Homo sapiens: one gene and its partners. Each later gene encodes a partner of the first gene's protein in a complex. Each region holds a gene or a part of one and is shown in the gene's direction. Other genes may lie near its edges.

Region 1 (7,992 bases):
GCCGACCTGAAAGTTTCTTTTTTTTGAGACAAGGTCTCACTATGTTGCCCCTGTCGGAGTGCAGTGGCATGATCAGGGCTCACTGCAGCCTTGCTTTCCCAGGCCCAAGCAATCTTCCCACCTCAGCCTTGCAAGTAGCTGGGACCACAGGCATGTGCCACCACCCCTGGCTAATTTTTGTTTTGTTTTTTTCAGAACAGAGTCTCTGTCGCCCAGGCTGGAGTGCAGTGATGTCAGTCTCAGCTTACTGCAGCCTCTGCCCGCCCCCCGGGCTGGTTCAAGCGATTCTCATGCCTCAGCTTCCCGAGTAGCTGGGATTACAGATGCATGCCACCACATCTGGCTAATTTTTTGTATTTTTAGTAGAGACAGGTTTCACCATGTTGGCCAGGCTGGTCTCGAACTCCTGGCCTCATGTGATCCACCCACCTTGGCCTCCCAAAGTGCTGGGATTACAAGCGAGAACCACTGCGCCTGGCCTGGGAATTGAAGTTTCTTAGTGTTTGGAATAGTTTAAAACGTTTTTTATTTGGAAATTTCTGGGTTTTGAAATGTATATGGACTGGCTGGGCACCATGACTCATGCCTGTAATGCCAGCACTTTGGGAGGCCGAGGCGGGTGGATCACTTGAAGTCAGGAGTTTGAAACCAGCCTGGCCAACATGGTGAAACCCTGTCTCTACTAAAAAAACCAAACCAAAACAAAAAAAAATTAGCCAGGTGTGGTGGCGGGCGCGTCTGTAATCCCAGCTACTCAAGAGGCTGAGGCATGAGAATCACTTGAACCCGGGAGGCAGAGGTTGCAGTGAACTGAGATCGCGCCACTGCACTCCAGCCTGGACAACAGAGTGAGACTCTGTCTCAAAAAAAAAAAAAAAAGGTATATGGATTAAAACTAGAGGGACAAGGATGGTTGTTTAGAGGTGACATCTTGACCATGTAACCTAGTAGTTTTTTTAGTTCAATTAGTTGTGTAAATGGACATGTGTCATCACAGTTGGCACTAAAAACAGCAAGTGGGTTATTAGATATTCAATACTGGGTTAGTAAGTCAAGTCACAGTCAAAATCTGCTGCTTTGGAAAACAGGTTAGTTTACTGAAAGTGATGTATTAGAACACAGACTATAGTCATTTCTTTCACCTATCTAAATAGATAAAATCTTCCAGCCTCACACCTGTAATCCCAGCACTTTGGGAGGCCGAGGCAGCAGATCACCTGAGATCGAGAGTTCGCGACCAGCCTGACCAACATGGAGAAACCCCGTCTCTACTAAAAATACAAAATTAGCTGGGAGTGGTGGCTCATGCCTGTAATCCCAGCTATTTGGGAGGCTGAGGCAGGAGAATCGCTTGAACCTAGGAGGCAAGGTTGCAGTGAGTCGAGATCGCGCCATTGCACTCCAGCCTGGGCAACAAGAGTGAAACTCCGTCTCTAAAAAAAGAAAAAAAAAAGCCTTCCTCCAGGACAGACTTGATGTGAATTTACTATAAATATATTGTGGTGGAGTGGGGGTGGTGCACACCTGTAATCCCAGCACTTTGGGAGGCCAAGAGAGGCAGATCGCTTGAGACCAGGAGTCCAGGAGTTTGAGACCAGCTTGGGCAACATGGCGAAACCCTCTCTATGAAAAATACAAAAGTTAGCTGGTGGGGTGGTGTGTGCCTGTAGTCCCAGCTACTAGCTACTTGGGAAGTTGAGGCACAAGATTCGCTTGAACCTGGGAGGAGGCTGCAGTGAGCCGAGATCACAGTACTGCACTCCAGCCTGGGCAACAGAACCAGGCCCTGTCTCAAAAAAAAAAAAAAAAAAAAAAAAAATATATATATATATATATATATATATATATATAAAATATATATTCTATATATATTATATTAATGTAATATTAATTAGAATATATATTATATATATAAGAAATATTTAAGCCAGTTAGAATTGTCTTGTTAATGTGTTGTCTTAAAGGGGAGTTGGAAATAAAGTATCTTGAAGACAGCTCTGGCCTAAGTGTCAGATCTCTGGACTCTAGTTCCAGGTTAGATTCCAACAAGGTTAGTGATCTAGGATGAAATATGTTTCCTGAGTCTCAGTTTTGTTACTTAAAATCAAGAAGTTTGAGTTTGTGATTTTAAAAATCTATAACATTAATCCCATGATTCTTTTTATTATTATTTTTTGAGACAGAGTCTCGCTCTGTCGCACAGGCTGGAGTGCAGTGGCGCGATCTTGGCTCACTGCAACCTCTGTCTCCCGGTTTCAAGTGATTCTCATGCCTCAGCCTCCCGAGTAGCTGGGATTAGCACGCACCACCACACCCAGCTAATTTTTGTATCTTTAGTAGAGACATAATTTCACCATGTTGGCAAGGCTGGCCTTGAAGTCCTGCCCTCATGTGATCCACCCGCCTCAGCCTCCTAAAGTGCTGGGATGACAGTCATGAGCCACTGCATCTGGCCCTAATCCTGTGATTCTAAGCAATATTCAAATTGTGTTAATTTCAAAAATTAAGGACTTATTTCCATTCACTTCTGCATGGCCTCATCCAGTCCATGGCTTCAAATACTGTGTATTATACATTCTATAAAATGCTGAGGACCCATATCTCTCCCGCCTCTATTTGTAGCTGTTATTTCCTGGATGTCTAGTAGGCACCTCAAATATCACATGACTGAAACAAACTCAATGACTTTCTCTATTTCCTCCACTAAATCTGTTGCTTCCATGCTTTTCTCATCTCCACAAATTCACCACAGTCCACAATAGCTCTGTTGAAAACCTGGCAGTCATCTTTTATTCCTTCCTTTCCGTCATAGCTCACATCCAGTTTATCTATTGGCGCTTTGAGAGCTGCTTCCAGAATACACCCAGAATCTGATCACTTCTCAGTCTTCATTGTTTAAGCCACTGGTGGTTTTCTATGTCTTTTAGGTTGAAATCCACATTCCCTACCTGCAGCCCACATCCAAACAATTTACAGGGGGATTCCTAACCCTCCTTGGTGTCCATCCTGTCACTCATTAATTAGCTCAGGCCTTCTTACCCTTGGCATGGACTGCCAGAACCTCCAGTCTCTATCCCTCTTCAATGCTTCTCGCAGCTACCACAGGTGGGCAGCAAGCCACGGGGGGCGTGGGGAGCATAAACTCATCTTGGAGTGTCACTCGTTGGTTTGCTTTTTTTCTTTAATCAACTATGTTGAGGTAAAATTTACATACAATAAGTCATGTACAGTTAAAGGGTACAGTTCAGTGAATTTTGAAAAATGTGCAAATCTATTCAATGACCACTAAAATCAAGACACAGAACTTTTCCATCATCTTTAGGTGTAAGAAAGTAAAATAGTACAGAGGCAAGTAAAGTAAAAATATGAGCCTTTCTCCAACTCCATTATAGCTTTTTGCAAAAACAACTCAACATGGCCGGGCACGGTGGCTCATGCCTGTAATCCCAGCACTTTGGGAGGCCGAGGCGGGCAGGTCTCCTGAGGTCGAGAGTTCAAGACCAGCCTGACCAACATGGAGAAACCCCATCTCTACTAAAAATACAAAATAAGCTGGGGTGGTGGTGCATGCCTGTAATCCCAGCTACTTGGGAGGCTGAGGCAGGAGAATCGCTTGAACCCAGGAGGTGGAGGTTGTGGTGAGCTGAGCTCTCACCATTGCACTCCAGCCTGGGCAACAAAAGCGAAACTCCGTCTCAAAAAAAAAAAACAAAAAAAATTCAACATTTCTGTGTGTGTTGCATGAGACAATACATATACATTTTTTTGGTGCCCAAACTCTCGAATAATGTTCTCAATCTTGACTGTACTTCAGAATTACCTGGGAAGCTTAAAAATTCCCAGTGCACAAGAAGCACTCCAGGCCAATTAAATCAGAACATAGGGGTGGAACCCAGGCTTCTATTTTATTTACTAATATTTTAGAGATGAGATTTCTCTGTGCTACCCAGGCTGGAGTCATCATAGCTCACTGCAGCCTCAAACTCCTGGGCTCAAGTAATCTTCTTGCCTCAGCCTCCCTGGCTCAAATGATCCTCTCACCTCAGCCTCCCAAGTAGCTAGAACCACAGGCGTGCCAGCACACCTGGCTAATTATTTTGCTTATTTTTTGTAGAGGGTCTCGCTATGTTGCCCAGGTAGGTCTTGAATTCCTGGGCTCAAGCCATCCTCCTGCCTCGGCCTCCCAAAGTGCTGGGATTATAGGCATGAGCCACCATGGCTGGCCCTTTTTTTGTTTTTTTGTTTTATTTTTAAGCTTCCCAGTGCAAGCAATGTTGAGAACTAATCTTTTGCCAAAGTATTTTTAGCTCTTTGTTCTCTACTAGGTTAACACCTACCGGGTCTTCAAATCTCACCTCAGAGTTCACTTCCAAGGGAAACGTGTTTTCTGAATCCGTCTCCAATGGTGGACTCTCCTTGCTGTATTACTTCTGCTTGTGTTTTTAGTCAAGTCTATTATTATTACTATTTTCTTTGCAGAGACGAGGGCTACGTTGCCCAGGTCTTGAATTCCTGGGCTCAATAGATCCTCCCGCCTCAGCCTCCCAAAGTGCTGGGATTTCAGGCGTGAGCCACTGTGCTGGCTTTAGTCATCTGTTTCCCGGATAGACTGTGAGCTCCCCAGGATCTAGCACAAGCCTGGCATATGACAACATAAATAAATGAGTGAATGTATACATGAATAAAGAGCGTGTACGGAGAAAGTTGCCGCATTATTTAGCGCAAATTAAGGCAGACATCAGCCTGCCCAGGACGCCTCTTTGGCTCTGGCGCGAAACACCCTCACGGGCCGGCGAGGCTGACGCGCTGCGCTCCATCGCACTAATCAGCCGGGCGTGGTGCGGGCGCCGGGAAGACTGGGCGGGGCGAAGGCATCACCTTTCGATGGGGCCGGCGCTGTGCGTCCTCCAGTCGAGGTGGGGCGCTGTGGAAGAGCGGCAGCTTCCGGTCGGCTTTTCTCTTCCTTCGGCTGCCGGCGCCAGCACGTCCTGTTTTCGTTGGCCGCGCTGGGATGGCCGCCACAGCTGTAGGTGCTGCTAGTGTTTAGCGCTGGTCTTTGCCGGGCGTTGAGGGCAGCTCAGCCTCCTTGTTTGTCCGGTTCGCCTGTGCGTGGTACTCAAGGGCACCAGTATTCCCGCGGTCGGCAGCATGGGTCGGGAGTCACGGTGAGGCAGAGCGCCGAGCGGGCTAGCGGGCGAGCGGCTTCTTGGGGTCGTGAGAAGAGGCGGGAGTTGAGGTGGCCGCCGGGCCAGGCCTGGCGCGGCCCCACGTGCGGTCAGCGCTGCCCCGCGAGCATTGGAAGGGCTGGGGGACCTCGGCTGAGGGAATGGTTGTGTTTGGGCCAGCGACGGCTTCCCCTGCACTACCATCAGAGGGTTCGAGCCCCTGGAGCGGGAACAACCCTCCAGGACGTTAGTGATTGGGCACCACATCCCGCCACTTCAAGGGAGCCTGCCCTGATTACTTCAGTCAGAAGTGATCCCAGTTGGATTGCTTATTGCTTCGCGTTTCCAACATTTCCTCGACTCCTGTCATTCTGTATTTTAGTTCTTTGTGCGCGTATGATCTTTTCCCAAGTTACTTGAAAGGAGCGTGTGGGCAGACATTTTTACCGCATCGACAGCACTATACACGACTAGGCTTTTACTGGGCTACAATAAATACTTGTTGCGTGGGCATTTACTTCGCAAATAGATTTCGTATTTAAGCAGGTAACTTTGTTACCTGCTTTTCTGTCCTTTTGAAGTTGTGGACTATGAGCTCTTATTAGAACTCATTAGATCTCATCACAACTTTAGATTGTTGATAGATTGTTAGGAACCTTGAGATTTTTATGTTAAAAATGACTATTTGCTATGTATTTAGCAATGACTGAAAGATATTTTATGTCTAGGAACAATGAAGGCTTTTGTTGTTAGTGCTAACAGTTCTTTGTTGAGGTACAATTAACAATCAGGGAAATGGACAAAACGTAAGGGTAAAGCTTGATGAAATTTAGCAAATATATAAACCGTGTAATCATCACCTGGATGAAGATAAAAAATATTTCTTTAACTACAGAAAATTCCTGTGACGGTGTTTTAAATCTCCGGAAGGCTGTCCAGACCAGAAATCTGAAAGTGATATTTATTTGACTCATTCTTCTCTCTCACTACCCACAGCCTGTTAGATTCTACATCCTTTGCCCATTCTGGTTGTCCCTGACTTAATTGAGGCCCTAATTATTTATTGTCCAGACTACTACATCTGTTTTAAATTGATTCTCTGAATTGATTGTCTTCCTCTGTTGCTCTCCTAATTGTTAGATCCCTTACACTACAGCCAGAGTGACACTTCTGAAGTAGAGATAAGATGATGGCATGCCCCTGACTTAGTCTCCATTGGTTTCTACTGCTTCCAAGATGAAATTTAAACTCTATGACAGCCTTCAAGGCCCTTCACAAGAAGGTCCATTCTAGCCCGTCAGCCTTCTCCTTTACCTCTCTGGTGTGCATGGCCTGTGCTCTAGGTTTGTTCAGGGAATCATGAAAGGCTTAGAGGTGGGAAGGCGCAAGGTGTTAGAGAAATAGCTAAAAAGCCCAATTTTTCTGCATATGTAGGTTTCATGAAGGGATTTTATCTTTTTTGAGAAGTAGTAGGAGGTAGGTCCTGAATAGGACTTGGGCCCAGAAAGCGGGTGGATTGTAGATTTTGAAGATCAGAATTTGTTTGTGAACCTTTGAAGATTTTGAGTAAAAAGTGTGTAATAGAATCAGAATTCTCCTTAGCAGCAATGAGTAAGATTTAATGGAAAAGTAATAGAAACAGGAAGACTACAGTCTTTAAGAATCTCCTAGGTAGATATGTCTGATATAGAATAGTGACGGTTGGAACTCTGTGGAGGTGATATAATGTGAAGGGAATTACAGAGGTGAAATTGGTATTACTTGGTTGTTTTTTTGTTTTTGTTTTTGTTTTTGAGACAGAGTCTCGCTCTTTCGCCAGGCTGGAGTGCAGTGGTGGGATCTCGGCTCACTGCAAGCTCCGCCTCCAGGGTTCACGCCATTCTCCTGCCTCAGCCTCCCGAGTAGCTGGAACTACAGGCGCCTGCCACCGCGTCAGGCTAATTTTTGTATTTTTTAGTAGAGACGGGGTTTCACCGTGTTAGCCAGGGTGGTCTCGATCTCCTGACCTTGTGATCCACCCGCCTCGGCCTCCCAAAGTTCTGGGATTACAGGCGTGAGCCACCGCACCCGGCCTGTTTTTTTGTTTTTGAGACAGGGACTTGCTCTGTCTCCCAGGCTGGAGTGCATTGAAACAATCTTGGCTCACTGCAACCTATGCTTCCCAGGTTCAAGAGATCCTCCCACCTCAGCCTCCCGAATAGCTGGGACTGCAAGCGTGTGCCACCACGCTTTGCTAATTTTTGTATTTTTTGTAGAGACAGGGTTTCACCATGTTGCCCAGGCTGGTCTCAACTCCTGAGGTCAAGCTCTCTGCCCACCTTGGCCTGCCAAAATGCTGGGATTACAGGCATGAGCCGCTGTGCCCAGCCAATTGGTGTTTTATTTATTGTATCGAATGAGAGCAAGAGAAAAATATTGATGATGACTAATGTTTTGAGCCTAGTGACCGGAAGTTGGTACGATTAATCGTTTGGGGAGGGAAGGGTAACAAGTTTGGGTTTCTACAGATTGAACTTGAGGTGCTTGAGAGATAATCAGGTGCATTCATCTCCTAGTGATCTTATTTAGGTTTATAGCTTTAAATAGCCTTTGTACACTAATAGCTGTCCAGTTTATATTTCTAGAGAAACCTCTTCCTTGAACTACAGGCTAATATTTCAACTATATACTATATATCTCCACTTGGATACCTAATATTCTGATCCACCTTCTCCCTGGATTTCTCCCTCAGCCTTCCCATCTTGGTAAATGGCAACTGAGTGATTTCTCTCTTGCTGTCACACTTGACATTTAGTTCATCATTAAATCCCATCGGTGCTAGCTTCAA
Region 2 (7,020 bases), on another chromosome or scaffold:
GAAATGGAAGATACTTCAGGGAAATGAAGGCATTTAGTACATACCTCTGTGGTTCGTTCTATTAAATTACTCTTTTGAGTTAACATAAAATTTCTATCACAGGAATTGAAATTCCAGAGTAATTTGGATGGAAATGAACTCATGCTGTCTATGTAAAATGTGTGTAAAAGTAAACACTAAAATATTAAAGTATGGAAAATCTTCTTTGAGTAATTTGCTCATTCAAAATGTTTGATTATAAAGAAACCACACCTATTACTCTGCTCTTTTTCCCAGGCTGCATTGCGTCAGATTACTGATAAAGCTCGTGAATTTGGAGCTGGTCCTTTGTTTAATCAGATTCTTCCTCTGCTGATGTCTCCTACACTTGAGGATCAAGAGCGTCATTTACTTGTGAAAGTTATTGATAGGATACTGTACAAACTTGATGACTTAGTTCGTCCATATGTGCATAAGGTTTGTTCTCCTTAATAGTGTTTCTGATAGTTTAAAGTTTTAACTTTTTCAGTTAATCAATGTTAAATTTACATATTCTCCTAGACCTTTTCCTTTGCACAAGTACACACCATACATGTACAAATACAGTTTTATACAGATGTACAGATGTTAGTTTTTGTCATCTTTGCCGTAAGAGGTTCATATTATTTAATTTTTTCATTTGCTTTTATTAAAATTAGATTAGGATGAGAACATATGAGAACTAACGCCAGTTAGTATTAAGAACCAGTTTTTTCACCGATGGTAATTATGGTGCAGTATGTTCATAGGGTGTATAAGTTATTTCTTTAAAAAATATTGAATATTAGTGTGTCACTAATAGCTCTCTTAAATTTTCATCTCTGTCTGGAGTTTGAACTTGTATAATTAAAATTCTTAAACAGTTCGTCCCTTGATTAACAAAAGTCCTGATAATTCTAAATTTCTTATGTATGTTTAATTCTGTACATGAGCATTTCATCAGTAATTGATGTGAAAGTGTAGCTTCTTCTCTTTTCTCTTTTTCAGATCCTCGTGGTCATTGAACCGCTATTGATTGATGAAGATTACTATGCTAGAGTGGAAGGCCGAGAGATCATTTCTAATTTGGCAAAGGTATTTACATTTAATTTCTAGAGAAGAAAATTTATATCTGTTTATGGAATTGATTATGGAAAGAAATGGTTGAAGATTAATATTACCAACTCATGACTGTCCTTTCTTTGTTTACATTTTAGGCTGCTGGTCTGGCTACTATGATCTCTACCATGAGACCTGATATAGATAACATGGATGAGTATGTCCGTAACACAACAGCTAGAGCTTTTGCTGTTGTAGCCTCTGCCCTGGGCATTCCTTCTTTATTGCCCTTCTTAAAAGCTGTGTGCAAAAGCAAGAAGTCCTGGCAAGCGAGACACACTGGTATTAAGATTGTACAACAGATAGCTATTCTTATGGGCTGTGCCATCTTGCCACATCTTAGAAGTTTAGTTGAAATCATTGAACATGGTAAGTTGTAATGTAACTTTGTCTTTTTTTTTTTTTCTTTAGGAGACAGGGTCTTACTATGTTGCCCAGACTGGACTCAAACCTTTGGGCTCAAGTGATCCTCCTGCTCAGCCTCCTTAGTAGTTGGGACTAGAGGTACACACACAGCCTGTCCATGTTTAATAGGACAGCTGTCCTAAAATTTGGGCTACTGATTTGGGGAGATAAATGGAAAGGCATAGCTCTACAAACTATAGATTTTATGATGGGTTTGTTATATTATCTGCTGACAGGCTATGGTTCATGTTTTGCTTTTACCTAATTTTGTTTAATGTGAACATATTCTGCAGTTTGGCTGAATAGTTGATATATTGAGAGAATCTGGATGATATTGTGTAACTTAGGTAATGTTGGGGCATAGTTAAAACCTGTGTTTGGTTTTGTAGGTCTTGTGGATGAGCAGCAGAAAGTTCGGACCATCAGTGCTTTGGCCATTGCTGCCTTGGCTGAAGCAGCAACTCCTTATGGTATCGAATCTTTTGATTCTGTGTTAAAGCCTTTATGGAAGGGTATCCGCCAACACAGAGGAAAGGTAAATCCACCAATTACCTTTTGATTTATCTTCATTAAAGTTAAGGCGACATAAATCTAAATTACTAAAGTACATATATTTTTTATTTAAAAATAGGGTTTGGCTGCTTTCTTGAAGGCTATTGGGTATCTTATTCCTCTTATGGATGCAGAATATGCCAACTACTATACTAGAGAAGTGATGTTAATCCTTATTCGAGAATTCCAGTCTCCTGATGAGGAAATGAAAAAAATTGTGCTGAAGGTAATTATTCCAGATTTGTTAATGTAAACTGGATATGTTTCATGGTTCTAACAGAATTTTAAAGTGTTTTTAAAAATCAACAAAAAAAACTGTATGTTACACGAATACTGTTTGATTTGTTTTTAAATTTTATTTTTTAAAATCACGTAATCAGCAATGAGTATTCTCTTCATTTCAGGTCAGTTGATTTATTATTACTATTTCTTAACCTTTTAGGTGGTAAAACAGTGTTGTGGGACAGATGGTGTAGAAGCAAACTACATTAAAACAGAGATTCTTCCTCCCTTTTTTAAACACTTCTGGCAGCACAGGATGGCTTTGGATAGAAGAAATTACCGACAGGTAAGCTTTTATTGTAAAAGAATATTCTCAAAAGTCCTTTCAACTCATTCTTTAGTCAACTTGAATGCATGTTGTATATTATTTTTTGCCTTGATTATCTCACAGTTTATATGTGCTTGATTATGAAAGGAGATGGATTTTAGTCAGCCAGTTAACTTCCATTTTGATTTTGGATTCGAGGATTAATACTTAACTGTGAATTGATGTTTTTGTCTGGTACATTCAGTGCTTTATCTGGCTAGATGAAACATGGACACAGTTTTACCTTGAATCATGTTAACTTATACTCATTTTTCGATGTTTGGTCACTTTTCTCTTCAACTTTAATAAGTAGCAATGAATCATTCTTACCATGTTTATTAGCTAAATAAGTAGTATATTTAGAGTATTTGGTTTTCATGATGTTGCTTTATTTCCTTGGAAAAGCAGTCTAAAAGGTTTTTTGTTTTTCTGTTCTTTTTAGTTAGTTGATACTACTGTGGAGTTGGCAAACAAAGTAGGTGCAGCAGAAATTATATCCAGGATTGTGGATGATCTGAAAGATGAAGCCGAACAGTACAGAAAAATGGTGATGGAGACAATTGAGAAAATTATGGGTAATTTGGGAGCAGCAGATATTGATCATAAACTTGAAGAACAACTGATTGATGGTATTCTTTATGCTTTCCAAGAACAGACTACAGAGGTAATGAAAACTATTATGGCACATTGCTACTAACTTTAATATTTGTAGAAAAGCATATTAGTTGTCAAGCAAATTTTTCTAGAATGCAATTGAATTTGAAGTAATTTTTAAAATGCTCAGGGGGTTACCAAACGATATTATTCTACCTCAAGTTTTAAGATTTGATGTAAAAAAACAGCAACAGATGTTTGGGTGGTTAGAAAAGGTTGACTCTTAGTGTATTTCAACTGTGCAGTCATAAACCAAATGAATATGTCTTTTTTTTAAATTTATTTTTTAGGACTCAGTAATGTTGAACGGCTTTGGCACAGTGGTTAATGCTCTTGGCAAACGAGTCAAACCATACTTGCCTCAGATCTGTGGTACAGTTTTGTGGCGTTTAAATAACAAATCTGCTAAAGTTAGGCAACAGGCAGCTGACTTGATTTCTCGAACTGCTGTTGTCATGAAGACTTGTCAAGAGGTAAACTTTTGCATCAAATTCTTACTTCTTCCCCAAATAGTTTAATGTAAATAGTAACATTTTAACATTATTTGTTTTATTATAGGAAAAATTGATGGGACACTTGGGTGTTGTATTGTATGAGTATTTGGGTGAAGAGTACCCTGAAGTATTGGGCAGCATTCTTGGAGCACTGAAGGCCATTGTAAATGTCATAGGTATGGAATTTGCTGGTTACATAAGACTTTTTCTTGTTTTAACTTTCTTTTTCTTTTTTTTTTCGTAAGTAAAATCTTATTTAGGAGTTGGGAGGTTTTTGTTAGCTTTTTAAAAGCACTTCAAGATTGTAGTTAAGTCGGGGGATGTCACAAAAGTCTTGTTTCCCAAAACCCATTTATATTTTACTTTAAAGAGAAAAAAAGGGTAAGTTTAGGACCTACATGAGAGGTGGGAGTAGTCACAGCTCAAAAAGCTTTGAAGTCATGGAATACAGGACCCTAGTAGAAATAGTGTGTCAGGTGAAATATATTCTGCCATGTTCTGCTGCGGGGTGAAAAGGCAATCCTAAAGTTTTAATTTAGTTTTAGAACAATATATATATATTTAAACCTTGAATTAGCGATTATGACAGGTTTTTTGCTTGTGATCAGTTTCAAGGAATATAATCAGAGAAAAGTGAACTGATCAAATTATTGTCTTTATTTACATACCCAAGTTTTAAATACTGTCCATTCAGTTTTCTAACCCGTAATACAGCTATATTACAAATGGTCTTGGATATGGAGAGCAAAGTTTTTATTCCATTAGGGCAGTATGAAGAAAACAAATGGTTTCTTATATTTAATCTTTTTTTTAAATTGATTATAACTGTTGCCAAATGTAACTCCTGCAGAGTTTAGAGGCTCTGATAACCTAGCAGAAGTCAAAATAGCTGACTGTGAGAGAGCCACTGTTTGTTTTTCCTCATTTTGTAAGAGGTATTTATGCGATACACATGTTTAAACTATTGTATTTGCATATAATCTCCAATGCAACCCTATCCTCTATACTTGAAGATAGCTACTTGCCAGAAATCATTTACATGGCCACTTGTAGGGCTCTGGTTTGCAGGGAGTTTTAAACCATATTGTTTGTCAGAGAGGCATGGGAAGAGCAATGGAGAGAGAATCAGAGCAAGTGATTCTAGTTAGAGCAAGAGCCCCTGCCAGCTGCCTCCTTTTTTCTCTCTTCGTAGGTGTAAATACCATCCAAGTATGCCCTGCATTGCAGGGAGACTGGAGATCTGTTTGTTTTGCAGTTAAAGGGTAAGGGGGCCCTTTCTGGAAATTTTTGCTTTATTTACATGTTTACCTCTGGCTTATATTGTTGTGTATGGCCGGAACATAAGCTGTCCCCATATTTAAATGTCAGTGCACAAATATATTTCAGAATCAAACAAAACTTTTTTGTTATTGAGTATCCATCATCCTTTAAATCACTTCACTGATTTCTTTCATTTCTATACATAATCAAAAATTGTTAATAAAAGTTAAAAACGATTCTGAGTCTGGTCAGAATCTGGGGCTTTCTCTTTCCCTAGGCAGCTGTAAGTTTATATTTATACATAGTCATATATGACATTGCTAAGTAAAAGGAAAGTGAACAAAAGTTGCAATTCAAATGTTGATAGTTTATTGACTTCTATTAAATAGGTATGCATAAGATGACTCCACCAATTAAAGATCTGCTGCCTAGACTCACCCCCATCTTAAAGAACAGACATGAAAAAGTACAAGAGAATTGTATTGATCTTGTTGGTCGTATTGCTGACAGGTAAGCAGATTACCCACACATTTTTATAAGCAGTATCAATTTTCAAATTTGGCCACTTTGTATTCAATTAGCAAAATTTCCTTAATGTCACTAATATAAGTGTAAAAGATTAGGCTATCCAGTATTAATATTTTCAGTCAAATTTCAATTTGGATGGTAATGGGGGTGGCAATGTAATTTTAGGACTAAACCTGTAAGACTAACTCTTCAGCCTTTCTGAAGAGTAGTAAGTTTTATTTAATGCTTAAAATGAGTTAATCATGTTTTTAGAACTGAATTTGCAAATTTATCCTTAAAACTTTTCTTAATGTCACAATAATTAATATGTGTATTTTTTAAATTAGGGGAGCTGAATATGTATCTGCAAGAGAGTGGATGAGGATTTGCTTTGAGCTTTTAGAGCTCTTAAAAGCCCACAAAAAGGCTATTCGTAGAGCCACAGTCAACACATTTGGTTATATTGCAAAGGCCATTGGGTGAGTGTTATTTACTTCCATTAAAAAAAAATTACTTTATAATAAATGCATTGTGGTATTGGAAAATACTTCCATGTAGAAATCTCTTTTGAGGCATGGTCTGAATAATGCAGTTGAGAAAGCTCTTCATTTAACCACTGACCTTCTGATTATTGGAATGTATTGTTAAATTCTTTTTTTTTTTTTTTGAGACGGAGTCTCGCTCTGTCACCCTGGCTGGAATGCAGTGATTCAATCTCGGCTCACTGCAACCACCGCCTCCCAGGTGCAGGCGATTCTCCTGCCTCAGCCTCCCCAGTAGCTGGGACTACAGGCATGCACCATCACGCCTAGGTAATTTTTGTATTTTTTAGTAGAGATGAGGTTTCACCATGTGGGCCAGGCTGTTCTCGAACTCCTGGCCTCAAGTGAGCCACCTATCTTGGCCTCCAAAAGTGCTGAGATTACAGGCGTGAGCCACTGCGCACAGCCTGTAGTCTTAAATTCTTAATTAAAATAGATGGAAGGGTTTAAGACTTACTTTAATTACACTTTAGGTGTTTTCAGGGAGGGAAACAGTACCATTTTCAGAAAAATTTAAAATGTGTGCTGGTCTTCTAGGATATTGCTTAAACTATTAAGGCAAGTTTTTAGTCTCACAACATCATTTAAGTCTCATATTAATGCTTTATATGTTTTAAAAATCTTATTATGGATTGTTTGAGCCCAGGAGTTCAAGGTTACAGTGAGCTGTGATTGTGCCACTGCACTCCAACCTGGGCATCTGGGCACCTGGGCGACAGGGCGAGACCCTGTCTCTAAAAAAAACAACAAAAATGCTATTCTAACATTACTCCACGGATTTAACTGAATTATAGCTGCTTTGTGAGATAATCTGTGGTGGTTTGCTTCCACTCCATCACAACTAAAATAGGAAAAAACAGTCATTGTAGAAAACGAGACACCACATGTCCATGTGGCTTAA
Region 3 (7,997 bases), on another chromosome or scaffold:
AAGACAAGTTTATATATGCCAGTGAATCGTAAGGGAAGTCAAATGGGAAGGAAGGTGTAATAAACAAGATGAAACTTAAAAATCTCATTTGTTGTTTAATCACATCTGTGATGCTTCTAACTCCTCATATACTGTGATTTGCATAAAATTGTGTTTGTGTTTACTGTGTGGTGTAAATCTAGAGATACTTTGTATGTGAAAAGGGGATCACAAAAGAGAGAAAGCATCTCTTAGGCTATTTTCTTAAAAATAAACCTTCACAGAATGGCTGTCCTTTTCCATTAATCTGTATTCCATTGTAGCTGAATCTGTGCAGTTGAAATGAAAATGTTTTGGAGTCAGCGAATATAAAGCACTGAGTAAGGATCTGGGGCACAGTGCTTGCCTTACTGGGTCAACACTTACAACTGCCATGGATTAATAACTGGGCTAAGTTATCATTCACAAATATTGTTAGGAACTTGCCTTATTCATAGGCAGAATAAGTGGTCATGTTTATGGTGTCATTTGAGGACCTCTGTTGAAAAATCTGCAAACCTGCCACAGTGTCTGAAATTCTTCCTTTACAGAAATTCGTTTCTTTCTGGTAAGCAGTGCCCTCTTTCTAAAAACATGCAGAAGTACCATATGAAATCCCTAACCCCTGGGTGTGCAATTGTGATCAGATCATCTTCCTGCTTGACTTTATTAAACCCAATGGGTGCCTAAGTCCTGTAAGTGTATGGCCTAATTAATCTCTGCCCATGGAAATCAGATGGAAAGTTCTGATTTTCTATCCTGTGCTCCTACCTGCTAACATCATTCACTTGTTAATAATTATTGTTTTAAAAAAAAAAACTCTTGTCAATAGACGTGTCAGATTTAGACCTGTGGTTTCAGAAAAATTTTTGGAGCAAATTTAAACATGTTTGGCACTATAGGTAAATTTGTATTTAAAAAAAAAAACAATGTTTGAGTGTGCTTTTGGTAATGCTGAGCTTTCTTTAAATGGCTTGTGGAGTCGTGAACTTTTGCTAATGATGTGGCTCCAAAAGGTAATACATATTAACATTAGACTTTAACTTTCTGTAAAATTGGTTTACTTAAAGTTGGGCGGGGGGTGTGATACTGTATTAGTATTGTTTTAAAGTGGACACTGTAACACGTGTGGAAAAACAAATAAATATGAAATAAAGTTTTAAATGACTCTGTGTAACTTTATATTCTAAAAACAGTATTTCTGACAGAATATAACGGAACCCATTTTAATTCCAAAATGTTACTTTCAAGTCACAGAGCCCTAAAACAATCTTACTATTTTCCTCACTCTGAGTAAAAATTACATCTTTACTCTCCTAAACTCTAATAACTTTTCAGATATAACTTGATAAAAGTACCAGAATACTAAAGTGAAGACAGCTTTTTGGAAGTTCATAAAACTAGAACTCAAAGAACTTTTTTTTTTTCCATTCTCAGCAATCCTTAGGTGAGTTAGGGATATAAAATAATTCCCTAAATGGCTGTGTAGGGCATCAGCCTCCTTCCATCCGTAGTTGTAGTTGGCTTAAAATTCACAGCTTTGCTTTGATTTTTGAGAGGGTGGTCTCTTTTTCAACAGATTATCCTTGTCATGGCTAACCTTACAAGTAGGCCCTAATAGCCACAATTTTTTTCACACTGACTTTTGTGGTTCCAGAAATGTTTCTATGGAAAATTTCATTTCTTTGGAGAGAATTCTAAATGGCGTGGATAGCTGGGATATATACAAAATAAATTCTGTATACATCTCAGTGTTGCTCGGGGTCTTCCCTGACCCAAGACTTAAAACATGGAACATAATACAGTAATACTCCACAAAGCATGAAAACACAGTCACGAAGTTAGGCATTACCAAAACGTCCAGCAGGTAAGTCTTCATCATTGAAGGTGAAAGCACTACAAAACACTTAACGACTCGCTTTTCTGCTGAAAATAGCAAATTTGGGTTTGCAGAATTTCTGCAGTTTGAGTCATCTTAGGTCAGGAATTCATCGATCTTTTTGTCAGAAAGGAGTCTTTTTAGTTCCACTAAGCCTTGAGATTATAGGATGTGGGGATAGGAAAATTCCTGGACAGAGTGGGCTTGAAGGGACCATTTTTTAAAAATCTGATTTGGTATAGTTCAGTAATTTTTCAGAAAGAGTTCTTAGGCCAGATAGGTGAGTCCTATCTGGAGTGCAGTCTCTGCTTTTGTAGGTTAATGTATATTTATCCACCAAGAAGGCTGTGGCCTATTAGGGCAGAAGTACAACACAGATCACCCCATATAAAGGTCAGAGGGAAGAATGAAGCACATATTCAGAGAGAAGCCAGCTATGTAGATTCTTCCTAGGTCCAGCATCCCTTTATGTGGCCCATCTACACTGCAGTCCTGGAGTTTCAGTAGCCGCCCCTATCTTTATAACCCACCCCCCTTTTTTTTTGTTACCTCGAGTGTTTCTATAACTTGCAAGAAAAAAAACTTGTAAAAGACAGGTTACAAAGACAGAGATGCTTTCAGATTACCTCAGTCATTAGGGAGTTATTCTATGAATATGCAGGGAAATGAGAAAAAATAGGAACCAGGCCTCACAGAGACCACAGCATTGTGCAATTATAAACTGCCAGTTCTCACGACCAAACAGAATGCCATTACAGGTACAATGTGTGTACCTCTCAACTCCACTGCCTCACTAGTATAGTGACTCAGTGACCCTTCTTCGCTGCTTCAGCTGCTCCTCTCACCCGTGGGGAACTTCTCCACAGCAGGCCTCTGTTCTGCCTTTTACCTTCCCTGGGAGTATCTCCTTGCTTCTTTGCTACTCTGACCACATCCCTGTATGTTCCATACTCAAACTTTCTGGGAGAGGTTCTTACTGGCTCAGTCAAATCCAGTCTAGAATGCAGAGCTATCTGCCAGGTCACCACACAGACCCTGGGCAGCCTTTGGGCCAGGATGGCTGGGTGACATGGGACATAAGCATAAGGAACCCTTTAAGTCACCTGCTCAAAAGACGGTTGTGGTAGAGCCGGCACTCAATGATATGTGCAGTAGGGTGGTGTCGCATATTATCACCTATGCTGTGAACTCGGGAATGAAATGGGAGCCCAATAACACATTGCTGAAAACAGCTGTATGCTATTTTTGGATCCAGGAAAAAATATTTAGCAAAGTTTAAGCCTAATAAAACTCACATTACCTATATCATAAAAGTGCACACAAATTCAGTTCTCCAAGAGTTCCTGCCAGAATGAGAACTTCATGAAAAAGAAATGTAATTTAAAAAAAAACTAACCCAAACTATTAAAAACTGTTGTTATCGTTGAAACCATAGATTCACACAACTGGTGTGTGGGGAGCCAGGATTTTCTAGAAGTAGTACTCAACTGCTATGTTTAGAAGTGAAGGTCACTGGAATAGTGAAATAATTTCTTCTGGTAAGGTTTTCCCGGACCTCAAGCCCGGGTTATGATATTTATGTTTACACTAATGGGTTCCTTATTATTTTAATGAATTAGTATTTTTTAACAGCCGCTTTCATTTTTGTGCAGAAATATTGGTAAGTATAAACCACAAACAAACGTTTTTTGGGGTTTTCAATGTTTTAGTGTAAAGAGGACCTGGAACCAAAAAGTTTGAGAACTGCTGTCCTCCAGCATCTCATATCTGTCAGGTGCCAACCATCTTAATTCTGTCTCCCCTGAGCTGTGCCTGTCTTGTCAACTCCTGGGTCGCCAGAGCCTCACGCAGTGCCCTGCACTTAGTAGGGGCTCAATAAATACCTGCCCAACTTAAAAATATGGACCTTTTCCTTTTCAGCAATGAGTGTAATTCCTGAAAACAAAGTTCTGTTTAGAACAAAAAGTATGCTGTGTCTTTCTAAAAGAATGACAAAGAAGCGGAGTTTCCCGGCCAATAAAGCTGGTGTTTACACTGGGATGTTTACATTTATGCTTAAGTTTCAAGTTCGAAGCTCGAGCGCCACTGAAATCTGCAGTACAAGAGGCAGGCAACTGCTGCCCTTTCCATCCTTCCCACGGAGTCGAACTCCAGCCAGAGGAAGGTATGAGACCGATAAAGGAGAAGGCTGACACCAGAAAAAGAAAGTTGGCCCTTCTACCCCTCATTCGTTCATTCATTCGCTCATTCCGCATTAGACACCAGAGCCGGTGCCAGGAGTTTAGGCTACCAAGATGAACAAGATCCGGTGTCTATCCCCGGGTGTCGTAAAGAAACAAGTAAAAGACGCGGTTCCTGAGCGGGGGAGGGGCCTTTGGGCGAAGGAGGCGCGTCGTTTTCTCGAAGCCAGAGAAATTTGTCCTGTCCGCCCCACCCACTCCCCTAAGATGGCGCCCTCGCGAAACCCGCCCGGCCACCCCCGCGAGGGAATATTCCCACGCCTTCCTTCCGTTTCCCTCCCGGGCCGGCCGATCCGCCGGGGACCCCGCGGAGCTCAAGGCCCTTGAGGCGCCGCGGGATCCCAGTGGCCCTCGCCCCGCCCCAAACCCGACCCCGGTGGGCGTCGACGCGCAGCAGCAGCGGGTCCCCCCAACCCCGGCGCCCCGCCTCCCCGGGCCTCGCGCCGCATGCCGGCGTCGGCGCTTTTTGACGCCATAGTGGGCGTGTCGGCGCGACCCGCGACGTCGCCACGCGCCGACAATGGCGGCTGCGTCGGCCTGAGCAGGGCTTAGTTTAGAAGTAATTTCCTGACGTTGCCGAGGGAGCCGCAGTCGCCTCAGATCCGGTCGGCGGCGGCGGCGGTGGCGGCGGCGGCAGCGCGCCTGCGCGCTCCCGCAGCGCCCTGGACCTAGCGGCGGTGCCGAGGCCCGGCGGAGCAAGCCAGGTGGGCGGCGGCGCGGCCGAGCTCACAGCATCAGCGCGCGCGCGCGGTGGGCGGGCAGAGAGGGGGGCGGTGCAGCCGCCGAGCGGCCGCGATTTCCCGGGGACTGCTGGGGCGCAGCGGGGAGGCGGGCCGGGGGGCGGCGGGGCGCGAGCAGAGCGCGGTTGACCTCCCTTTCTCTGCTCAGCTCCAGCGTCATTTCGGCCTCTTAGTTCTTCTGAACCCTGCTCCTGAGCTAGGTAGGAAACATGAGCGGCACCAACTTGGATGGGAACGATGAGTTTGATGAGCAGTTGCGAATGCAAGAATTGTACGGAGACGGCAAGGATGGTGACACCCAGACCGATGCCGGCGGAGAACCCGATTCTCTCGGGCAGCAGCCGACGGACACTCCCTACGAGTGGGACCTGGACAAAAAGGCTTGGTTCCCCAAGGTAGGAGAGTGCCACGGGCGCCACTGCAGAGCGGGCCGCCTGGCCAGCCTCGCGGGGCACTCCTTTTACGTTTGCTTTGCTGAGATCCTTGGTCCTTGGTCCTAGCCCCCTTGAATAGCGACGCTTCTTTTTGTTGTGTTTGTTGGGGCACCGATGTGTAAAAGAACGTAAATCTTTAGGGTAGTGTCTTAAATGTAATTTTTAAGTCTTTTCTATGCTTTATTAATCTTGTCTGTGAAGGTCACAGTTGATTATTACATGACTGCTTTTTATTGCAAAGAGGAAAAATACCAAGAACAAATTTAGTAGCTGTCCATTTCTGGTAGCCAACCCCACTTGTCCTAGGAACTCAGATGTTTAGCTTATGTACTATGTGCAAAATGCAGTTTCTTGATTTCTTTTTTAAAGTAGCTGTTTATATAGCTTTACTAATTGAACTTTCTTTGCACCTTGCTTTACTTTCCTAGTAAATTTTGTCCCTAGGCATATATGTTTGAACCATATAACCACAGGAATAAGACTGGAGATACACAGAATACAGATGGAAAATCTGTGTATGTTTGTTTGGAATACTTGGAAATTGCTAAGTATTTTTATTTCAGCTTCGAAGTAAAATAACTAATGTTAAACTTGATTCTGTAAACTTTGTGGTAAAAGTGCCCTTTTAATCTGGCTCTCATGAGCAGGAAAGGGCACACTAATAGCACACAAATTGACTTGCAAGTCAATGATACAAAACCTGTCTCCACTGCGCGACTGGACTGCTATTGTAAAAATTCTTTTGCAACTTTTCTTTCCCATTCTGTATTTGTATATATATTCCAATCCCTCCAGATTGTTAAAATTTACGATTTCACTTCTGTGTTGGTAGTGCTAGTTTGAGTGCAGATTTGGTTTCTTCAGCATTCTGAATACTTTTAACAAAGGTGTGATAATGGATTAATGTGTGACTTTATCCTTTTATGTTGTTGAAGCCCATACCTCTTCAAACTTTGGGTTTTACATTTTCCCCATTCCATGCCTGCCTAATATTGATTGGTATGATGATATAACTATATTTCTTTCGTTTTGCAATAACGCTTTTCCCCCAAAGGGGAGGAAGATAGATATGAGTTGGATTTGTCTTTAATTTGTTCTGATACTAAAATATAACGTCATTTAATTTGTGATAAAGTTAAAATGAGCATTTAGTTTTACAATTGTTAACCCCATTCTTTATATACCAAATCAGAGTTCTGTTCTGTGTGCTCTCTGCATACAGATATTTAAGTACTTATTGTACATGTATATTGGTGCATCTGTACAGTAAGAGAAAATTGGATTCTGTGGTTAGATTATTCATTGACTGTTGGTTTTTATTGTTTTATTATCTGGTTCTTCCTTTGTTGTATGTATTTGTAGCCTTAGTCAAGTAGTGTAGAGAGGTAGTAATTAATAAATGAAACAACTAGAAAAGGTGCCAGCATCACTTAAAATGCTTTAAATCGTATCTCAGACTTTTGCATTGATCATCTAAGTACTTGTGTCTTATTTTTTATCACCGTATGCACAATTTTCTATAGAAGGTGACTATTCTTGCATTTATACCTTAATAACTACAACTATTATCCACAGAAACACTTTTGTGTTAAGTTGTATAACTATGCTGTAAAAACACAATTTAAACTTCTTATGAGTGGAAATAATTTTGAATTTCTCTGTCCGGGTCTGTTGAATTGCTTGTGTAGATTACTGAAGATTTCATTGCTACATATCAGGCCAATTATGGCTTCTCTAACGATGGCGCATCTAGTTCTACCGCAAATGTTGAAGATGTCCATGCTAGGACTGCAGAGGAACCTCCACAAGAAAAAGCCCCGGAACCCACTGATGCCAGAAAGAAGGGAGAAAAAAGAAAGGCTGAGTCAGGTAAGTGGTTCTAGCTTACAAATTTTAAGTGTAAAAATTAAAAATATGGGTGTGCATAGGTACAGTTGCTTTTTCGAGAATTATAATAGCTTTGAAGGAATAAGGTGAGTTTTTTCTTTAAGGTAGTGTCAGTTATAAAGAATCAAGATAAACTGGCCATCTTTTTTCCAGATAGGGCTCTAAAACTAATTATTTCTCAAAAGATTTAAATCTTTTGAAAGCTGGGTAGTGATTTGAGTTAGTTTATCTTGGTCTTTTAAGAGTAACAGAAAGGTCGTCCTGGAAGTTTCAAGAAACTGCTGCTTTGTCAAGATTCCATAATATGACTCTTATCTTTTTTTGCAAGTGTTTTATTTATTTAATTAATTTTGATTTCTAGGATGGTTTCATGTTGAAGAAGACAGAAATACAAATGTATACGTGTCTGGTATGTATAACTTTTTAAACAGGTTTAAGGTAGGAAATACTTAATTTTGAGATTTTTCACGAAGTGATTTTTAGCTTTCAGTTTCTCCAGAGTCCATTTTTTATCATTGTGTCATTTTTTGTTCAGCCATTTATATTAGTAAGGAATATGTGTGTTCATTACAGAACCAAGAAATTTAGTGTGTAACTTTGCATACCAACCTTTAGGCCTGGTTAATGTAACTTACAGCAGTGTGTCCCTTCCCATTCAGTGAGGCCCTCAAGAAAGCATAATTTTAATGTATATTTGAACACACAAAAATGTGAAATTTCTTCAGTTCCGTAAATGTAAAACTTTTACATACATTTAGAAAATCAACATTGCATTCACCTAAGTTATAGATTTCTAATT
Region 4 (7,020 bases), on another chromosome or scaffold:
ACCAAGAGCTTATCAGATCATATGTTAGGAATCTACATTCTCACTTCTAGGGATAAACATGAGTTTTTCCTGAACTCTCCAGGGAGAGAATGTGGACAAACCTTAGCTTCATCCTAAACCTGGTGGGGTTTTTTTGTTTTTTGTTTTGTTTTGTTTTGTTTTGTTTTTTGGGAGACAAAGTCTCCATCTGGCTTCTAGGCTGAAGTACAGTGGCATGATCATACCTCACTGCTGCAGCCTCAACCTTGTGGGCTCAAGAGATCTTCCCACCTTAGACTCCTGAGTAGCTGGGACCACAGGCACATGCCATCATGCCCAGCTAATTCAGATAATTTTTTGTAGAGACAAGATTTCACCATGTTTCCCTGCCTGGTCTCTAACTCCTGAACTCAAGCAATTCACCTATCTTGGCCTCCCAAAATGCTGAGATTACAGGTGTGAGCCACCACACCTGGCCTAAACCTGGATCTTAATAAATACCATATTGTTCTTTCCAGAAAGAGACAAGCAGTGCCCTGACCCATGCTGGAGCCCATCTTGACCTCTCTGCATTCTCCTCCTGGGAGGTATGTTTCCTTCAGCAGTAGTAGTGTTCTCTCTGTCTATTTTTCTGTCTTTAAAGACTGCTCTCCTGTCTTTAATACCATGGTTGTGTTGTGATAAGGCACTATTTCTTGAGATCAAGCATCTACAAAGAAAGTAGCAAGGCAAAAAGAAAAAAATTACTACTTGGGAAACTGAAATAATTATTCTAACTACATTAAGCCGTAGTAAAGTAAATGGAACACTATCAGTATGGTTAAGTCTGAAGATAACTATAGATTCAGTCCTCTGGAGAGTTTAGACTTACTGCTAGATTGGCTGTGAAATGTGTGGTCCTGCCACAGCCTCAGGAACACCCACCCTCTGGCCTGCATTTGGGGTTTCCCAAAAATCTGTTAATGTAATATTGTAATTTTTCTCTTCTTTGTATAGGAGTTGGCTTCTCTGGGTTTGGACAGATTGAAATCTGCTCTCTTAGCTTTAGGCTTGAAATGTGGCGGGTAAGGAATAGTTTTTCTATCAAAACTATCGATTTACTGTGTGTTTGCACAGTCTTCTAAGTAGCTCTGATTCCATTTTTTTTGTTGCTCCACACTGCAAAAATAAGCCAGCCTGTGTGGTAAAGTAACCCTAAAATCCTTTGCCGTCCTGTCTCCTTAGGACCCTAGAAGAGCGAGCCCAGAGACTATTCAGTACCAAAGGAAAGTCCCTGGAGTCACTTGATACCTCTTTGTTTGCCAAAAATCCCAAGTCAAAGGGCACCAAGCGGTGAGTGGCTGGGGTAGCACTGCTGCTTGTGGCTTTTAAATGTTATTCCCATGCAGAATTTTTAACCACAGTGGAGACTTTAAAGCCTGCTTTATCTCCGTTATTGGTTGACAGAGATCCAGTCTGCTCTTTATCTCTGCTAATAGCAGAGAGTACTATCACTGTTAATATAAACCAAGGACCGTCTGTATTCATCTGATTGAGAGCACATCAAGTTTCTAAATTTGAAACCATATTCATGGCACCTTTAATAGGTTATGGAGGCTAAAAGGCTAAATAGGTTCAAAACCTATTTTTCTAAGCTTATTTTTGGTAAAGTTGAATCTAATTCTTGAGCTACATACTTATACAAGGTATTTTCTTTTTTCTTTTTTTTTTTTTTTGAGACAGTCTCACTCTGTTGCCCAAGCTGGAGTGCAGTGGTGCAATCTCAGCTCACTGGAACGTCCACCTCCTGGGTTCAAAAGATTTTCCTGCCTCAGCCTCCTGAGTAGCTGGGACTACAGGCACGCACCACCACACATGGCTGATTTTTTGTATTTTTAGTAGAGATGGGGTTTCATCATGTTAGCCAGGCTGGTCTGCAACTCCTGAGCTTAAGTGATCCACCTGCCTTGGCCTCCCAAAGTGCTGCGATTATAGGCGCGAGCCACCGTGCCCGACCCAGGGTTGTTTTTTTTGTTTGTTTGTTTTTTTCTTTTTTGAGATGGAATCTCGCTCTGTTGCCCAGGCTGGAGTGCAGTGGCACAATCTCGGCTCACTGCAAACTCCGCCTTCTGGGTTCAAGTGATTCTGCTGCCTCAGCCTCCCGAGTAGCTGGGATTACAGATGTGCAACACCACATTGGCTAATTTTTGTGTGTTTTTTGTTTGTTTGTTTTTGAGACGGAGTCTTCCTCTGTCACCCAGGCTCAAGTGCAGTGGCGCAATCTCGGCTCGCTGCAACCTCCACCGCCCTGCTTGAAGCGATTTTCCTGCCTCACTCTCCCGAGTAGCTGAGATTACCAGAGTGCGCCACCATGCCTGGCTAGTTTTTGTATTTTTAGTAGAGACGGGGTTTCACCATGTTGGCCAGGCTGGTCATGAACTCCTGACCTCAGGTGATCCACCTGCCTCAGCCTCCCACAGTGGTGGGATTACAGGCATGTGAGCCACCGTGCCCAGCTAATTTTTGTATTTTTAGTAGAGAGAGGGTTTCACCATGTTGGCGAGGTTGGTCACAAACTCCCAACCTCAAGTGATCGCCAGCCTCAGCCTCCCAAAATGCTGGGATTACAGGCATGAGCCACCGAGCCTGGCCCAGTATTTTCTTAATGTACGTTTTTTTCTAATTCTCACAACAACCCAGAAAATTAGTTGTTATCCTGAGTTTTTGCAGATAAGGACTCAGAAAAGTTATGGAATGTGTCCACTCTCTCATAGTTCTAAGTAGCAGAGTCAGGATTTGGGCCTAGGTCTACCTGCTGCAGAGCTTGCTCTTATATACCACATTTCCTTTGTAGATTATAATGATGGAAATGTAAGCGGTCTTGATGTGTCCTTCATCTTCTAAGTGAGGTCATAGAGGAAGCCTCCATGCATTCTGAGAAATACCCTCAGTATTTGTCAGAGAGTCCTGAGATGAACAGAGCATTTGCTTTCATAGCATCGTATTTCTCATGTGCTTATAATTTTTAATGCAGTTGTGCAATAAATGTTCCCAGATATAGGGAACAAAACAATGGATGAGAGAATCCTTGAGTGAAACAGCTTGTTTCTTTTTCTCAGAGACACTGAAAGGAACAAAGACATTGCTTTTCTAGAAGCCCAGATCTATGAATATGTAGAGATTCTCGGGGTAAGTGACTGACTGCTGAAAGTGGAAAATGGTATAAAGCACAGGAGTTAAAGGGAGAGGAACTCACAGAAGATACTTTTTCATTAGGTTCAAAAGAGGAGTGGATAGCTGATAAACTAGTATGGCACAAAATAGAGGTCAGGGTACAAGGCTCTTCAGTAAGTTCCTATTCTGTTGTTAGATGATACTCCCAAAGTTGCCCAATTCCCATAAAGCCAGTCATGGAGAATAGAGTCCCCTCACAATATAATGTCCAGAATAGTGCAGATTCTGTGCCTGAGCTTTAGAAAATACTCAGGAGTAGCCCACAAAGCAGACACTCAAAGGGCAAGTAACAGAAAGGCTACTCAAAGTGGCCTTTCAGTTATGACTTATGAAAAGGCATTTTCATAAGTCATCTCATGTAAGTCAACTTACATGTTCATAAGATTATGAGAAACTTAGTAGGGCTAGAATATTATTAGTACAAAGCTGGCAGTGAATGTTCTTGAATATTTCAGGAGGAGCTGAAGTGTGGGTTGGGGTAGAGAAAGGCCTAGCCTGACCAGTATGCTTGTCTCAGAGAGAAAGCAGGGAGAGGAGTAGGAGGAAAAGAAATCTCTTTCCAGGAAGAAAAAGTGGAAGAAAGGGCAGCACTCATCCAGAAAAGATGATCAGTGTCTCTGGAGTCCTTCAGAAGACCAGCCTTTCTGATTGTGTCTGCTGTGTACAGTTTTTTTTTTTTTTTTGAGACAGAGTCTTGCTCTGTCACCCAGGCTGGAGTACAGTGGTGTAATCCGGGCTCACTGCAACCTCCACCTCCAGGGTTCAAGCAAGTCTCCTGCCTCAGCCTCCTGACTAGCTGGGACTACAGGCATGCGCCACCACGCCCGACTAGTTTTTTGTATTTTTAGTAGAGACAGGGTTTCACCATATTGGTCAGGCTGGTCTCGAAATCCTGACCTCGTGATCCGCTTGCCTCGGCCTCCCAAAGTGCTGGGATTACAGGCGTGAGCCACCGCGCCCAGCCCAATTTTTAACTCTCAGAGCCTTTCCCTTTACACATACTCGCATGGTCCGTTGAGTGGATGGCTCTGGATCAGATAGCTTGTTCACATATTTTTGTTAATTGCCGTGGACATTTTCATTCGGCCTTTGAGGACCATTCGTATAATAGCTGTAGAACTAGTCACCTGTGATTCTGTTATGACTGCTTTCAGTAAAAGGCTAGCTAGACATTGGACATTGGAGAGATATATTCTCCGCTGTGAACTTGGGCTGTGCTAGTGTGGACAGCAGGCTGAATTGCCAGTCTTGTGAGTGGCTGGGAGGCCACTCATGCCCTTGACATGAGATTTGTCCACCACTTTCTCCCTCTTTTTTTTTTTTGAAATAGTATCTCACTCTGTCACCCAGGCTGGAGTGCAGTGGCGGGATCTCAGCTCACTGCAACCTCCGCCTCCTGGGTTCAAGTGATTCCTGTGCCTCAGCCTCCCTGGTAGCTGGGACTACAGGTGTGTGCCACCACACCTGGCTAATTTTTGTATTTTTGGTAGAGACAGGGTTTTGTCTTGTTGGCCAGGCTGGTCTTGAATTCCTGGCCTCAAGTGATCCGCCTGCCTTGGCCTCCCAAAGTGCTGGAGCCACTCGACGGCCTCTCCATCCTTTAAGAGCATTTTGCTTTCCCTGCCAGGAGATGGCACTATTCTCTTCGGAATTCCAACCAGTTCTAGCCAAATACTTTCCAGAAGTTGCTCTCACTATGAACTGATAAGATTTTTGCCATTATTATACCATTTGTTGATGTCTGTTGGTTTTTGGACATTATGCAAATTTTTTTGATACAATAGTGAATAAGACACAGCCTCTTGCCCTTAAGAAACTCATTTTGTGGTTAGGGGAGACAAATAATTACAATATAATGTGATACATACCTGAATAAAGTGAGGTTGAGTCTTCTAAGTAGAAAGAGAGAAGGGAGAAGAAAAAGTTTCTGGTAGAGGAAACAGCAAACACAAAGATACAACAGTATTAGATAAAATTATATGTTCAGGAAATGAGAAATGCAGTGTGTGTGGAATATGGCTTATGAGGGAGGGAATGGTCGGAGAAAACTCTGTCAGAGAGTTATGTTGGAAATTTGGACTTTGCCTTATAAGCAGTAGGAAGCCAATAAAAGTTCTCTTAAGTAGGATAGCGTGCCACTACAGATTTGGGTTTTTAAACAGATAAACCTGGTAGCAAAATGGAAATTGGATTGGAATGAGGAGAGACTCAAGGCAAGTTAGAAAGTGGTCATCTTGGGCCGGGCGCAGTGGCTCATGCCCGTAATCCCAGCCCTTTGTGAGGCCAAGGCGGGCAGATCACAAGGTCAGGAGATCGAGACCATCCTGGCTAACACTGTGAAACCCTGTCTCTACTAAAAGTATAAAAAATTAGCCAGGCATAGTGGCGGGCATCTGTAGTCCCAGCTACTCGGGAGGCTGAGGCAGGAGAATGGCATGAACCCAGGAGGCAGAGGTTGCAGTGAGCCGAGATTGCGCCACTGCACTCCAGCTTGGGCGACAGAGCAAGACTCCATCTCAAAAAAAAAAAAAAAAAAAAAAAGTGGTCATCTTGGTGAGGAAAGGAGAAGAAAGTCCTGGTTAAGGAAATATTTTTTTTTTAATTTTTTTTTATACTTTAAGTTCTAGGGTACATGTGCACAACGTGTAGGTTTGTTACATATGTGTACATGTGCCATGTTGGTGTGCTGCACCCGTTAACTCGTCATTTACATTAGGTATATCTCCTAATGCTATCCCTCCCCCGTCCTCCAACCCCACAACAGGTCCCGATGTGTGATGTTCCCCACCCTGTGTCCAAGTATTCTCATTGTTCAATTCCCACCTATGAGTGAGAACATTCGGTGTTTGGTTTTCTGTCCTTGCGATAGTTTGCTCAGAATGATGGTTTCTAGCTTCATCCATGTCCCTACAAAGGACACGAACTCATCCTTTTTTATGGCTGCATAGTATTCCATGGTGTATATGTGCAACATTTTCTTAATCCAGTCTATTATTGATGGACATTTGGGTTGGTTCCAAGTCTTTATTATTGTGACTAGTGCTGCAATAAACGTAAGTGTGCATGTGTCTTTATAGCAGCATTATTTACAATCCTTTGGATATATGCCCAGTAATGGGATGGCTGGGTCAAATGGTATTTCTAGTTCTAGATCCTTGAGGAATCGCCACACTGTCTTCCACAATGGTTGAACTAGTTTACAGTCCCACCAACAGTGTAAAAGCGTTCCTGTTTCTCCACATCCTCTCCAGCACCTGTTGTTTCCTGACTTTTTAATCATCGCCATTCTAACTGGTGTGAGATGGTATCTCATTGTGGTTTTGATTTGCATTTCTCTTTGTAGATTCTTTGTAGTTCTTTGTAGATTCTGGATATTAGCCCTTTGTCAGATGGGTAAATTGTAAACATTTTCTCCCATTCTGTAGGTTGCCTGTTCACTCTGATGGTAGTTTCTTTTGCTGTGCAGAAGCTCTTTAGTGTAATTACATCCGATTTGTCAGTTTTGGCTTTTTTTTGCCATTGCTTTTGGTGTTTTAGTCATGAAGTCCTCGCCCATGCCTATGGCCTGAATGGTATTGCCTAGGTTTTCTTCTAGGGTTTTTATGGTTTTAGGTTTAACATTTAAGTCTTTTTTTCTTTTTCTTTTTCTTTTTTTTGTTGGAGACAGAGTCTCACTCTGTCGCCCAGGCTGGAGTGTAGTGGCATGATCCCAGCTCACTGCAACCTCCACCTCCTGGTTCCAAGCGATTCTCCTGCCTCAGCCTCCCGAGTAGCTGGGACTACAAGCATGTGCCACCATGCCCAGTTAATTTTGTGTATTTAGTGAGA

Evidence for each region.
Region 2: DDX46 (region 1) and SF3B1 share a complex: the UniProt entries of both Homo sapiens proteins name them as parts of the 17S U2 SnRNP complex.
Region 3: DDX46 (region 1) and HTATSF1 share a complex: the UniProt entries of both Homo sapiens proteins name them as parts of the 17S U2 SnRNP complex.
Region 4: DDX46 (region 1) and SF3A3 share a complex: the UniProt entries of both Homo sapiens proteins name them as parts of the 17S U2 SnRNP complex.

What each region holds. Positions count from the first base shown.
Region 1 is NC_000005.10:134,753,791-134,761,782, forward strand, and holds the start of DDX46 (probable ATP-dependent RNA helicase DDX46), read left to right. Parts: upstream 1-4,988; 5' UTR 4,989-5,148; coding exon 5,149-5,165; intron 5,166-7,992. UniProt on the Homo sapiens protein: Component of the 17S U2 SnRNP complex of the spliceosome, a large ribonucleoprotein complex that removes introns from transcribed pre-mRNAs.
Region 2 is NC_000002.12:197,397,021-197,404,040, reverse strand, and holds part of SF3B1 (splicing factor 3B subunit 1), read left to right. Parts: intron 1-276; coding exon 277-456; intron 457-1,005; coding exon 1,006-1,092; intron 1,093-1,214; coding exon 1,215-1,485; intron 1,486-1,910; coding exon 1,911-2,056; intron 2,057-2,152; coding exon 2,153-2,299; intron 2,300-2,515; coding exon 2,516-2,641; intron 2,642-3,104; coding exon 3,105-3,326; intron 3,327-3,606; coding exon 3,607-3,789; intron 3,790-3,874; coding exon 3,875-3,986; intron 3,987-5,002; coding exon of another isoform or gene 5,003-5,072; intron 5,073-5,459; coding exon 5,460-5,580; intron 5,581-5,924; coding exon 5,925-6,056; intron 6,057-7,020. UniProt on the Homo sapiens protein: Component of the 17S U2 SnRNP complex of the spliceosome, a large ribonucleoprotein complex that removes introns from transcribed pre-mRNAs.
Region 3 is NC_000023.11:136,492,599-136,500,595, forward strand, and holds the start of HTATSF1 (17S U2 SnRNP complex component HTATSF1), read left to right. Parts: upstream 1-4,993; 5' UTR 4,994-5,086; coding exon 5,087-5,272; intron 5,273-6,999; coding exon 7,000-7,180; intron 7,181-7,559; coding exon 7,560-7,607; intron 7,608-7,997. UniProt on the Homo sapiens protein: Component of the 17S U2 SnRNP complex of the spliceosome, a large ribonucleoprotein complex that removes introns from transcribed pre-mRNAs.
Region 4 is NC_000001.11:37,973,011-37,980,030, reverse strand, and holds part of SF3A3 (splicing factor 3A subunit 3), read left to right. Parts: intron 1-497; coding exon 498-566; intron 567-975; coding exon 976-1,043; intron 1,044-1,203; coding exon 1,204-1,311; intron 1,312-3,077; coding exon 3,078-3,147; intron 3,148-7,020. UniProt on the Homo sapiens protein: Component of the 17S U2 SnRNP complex of the spliceosome, a large ribonucleoprotein complex that removes introns from transcribed pre-mRNAs.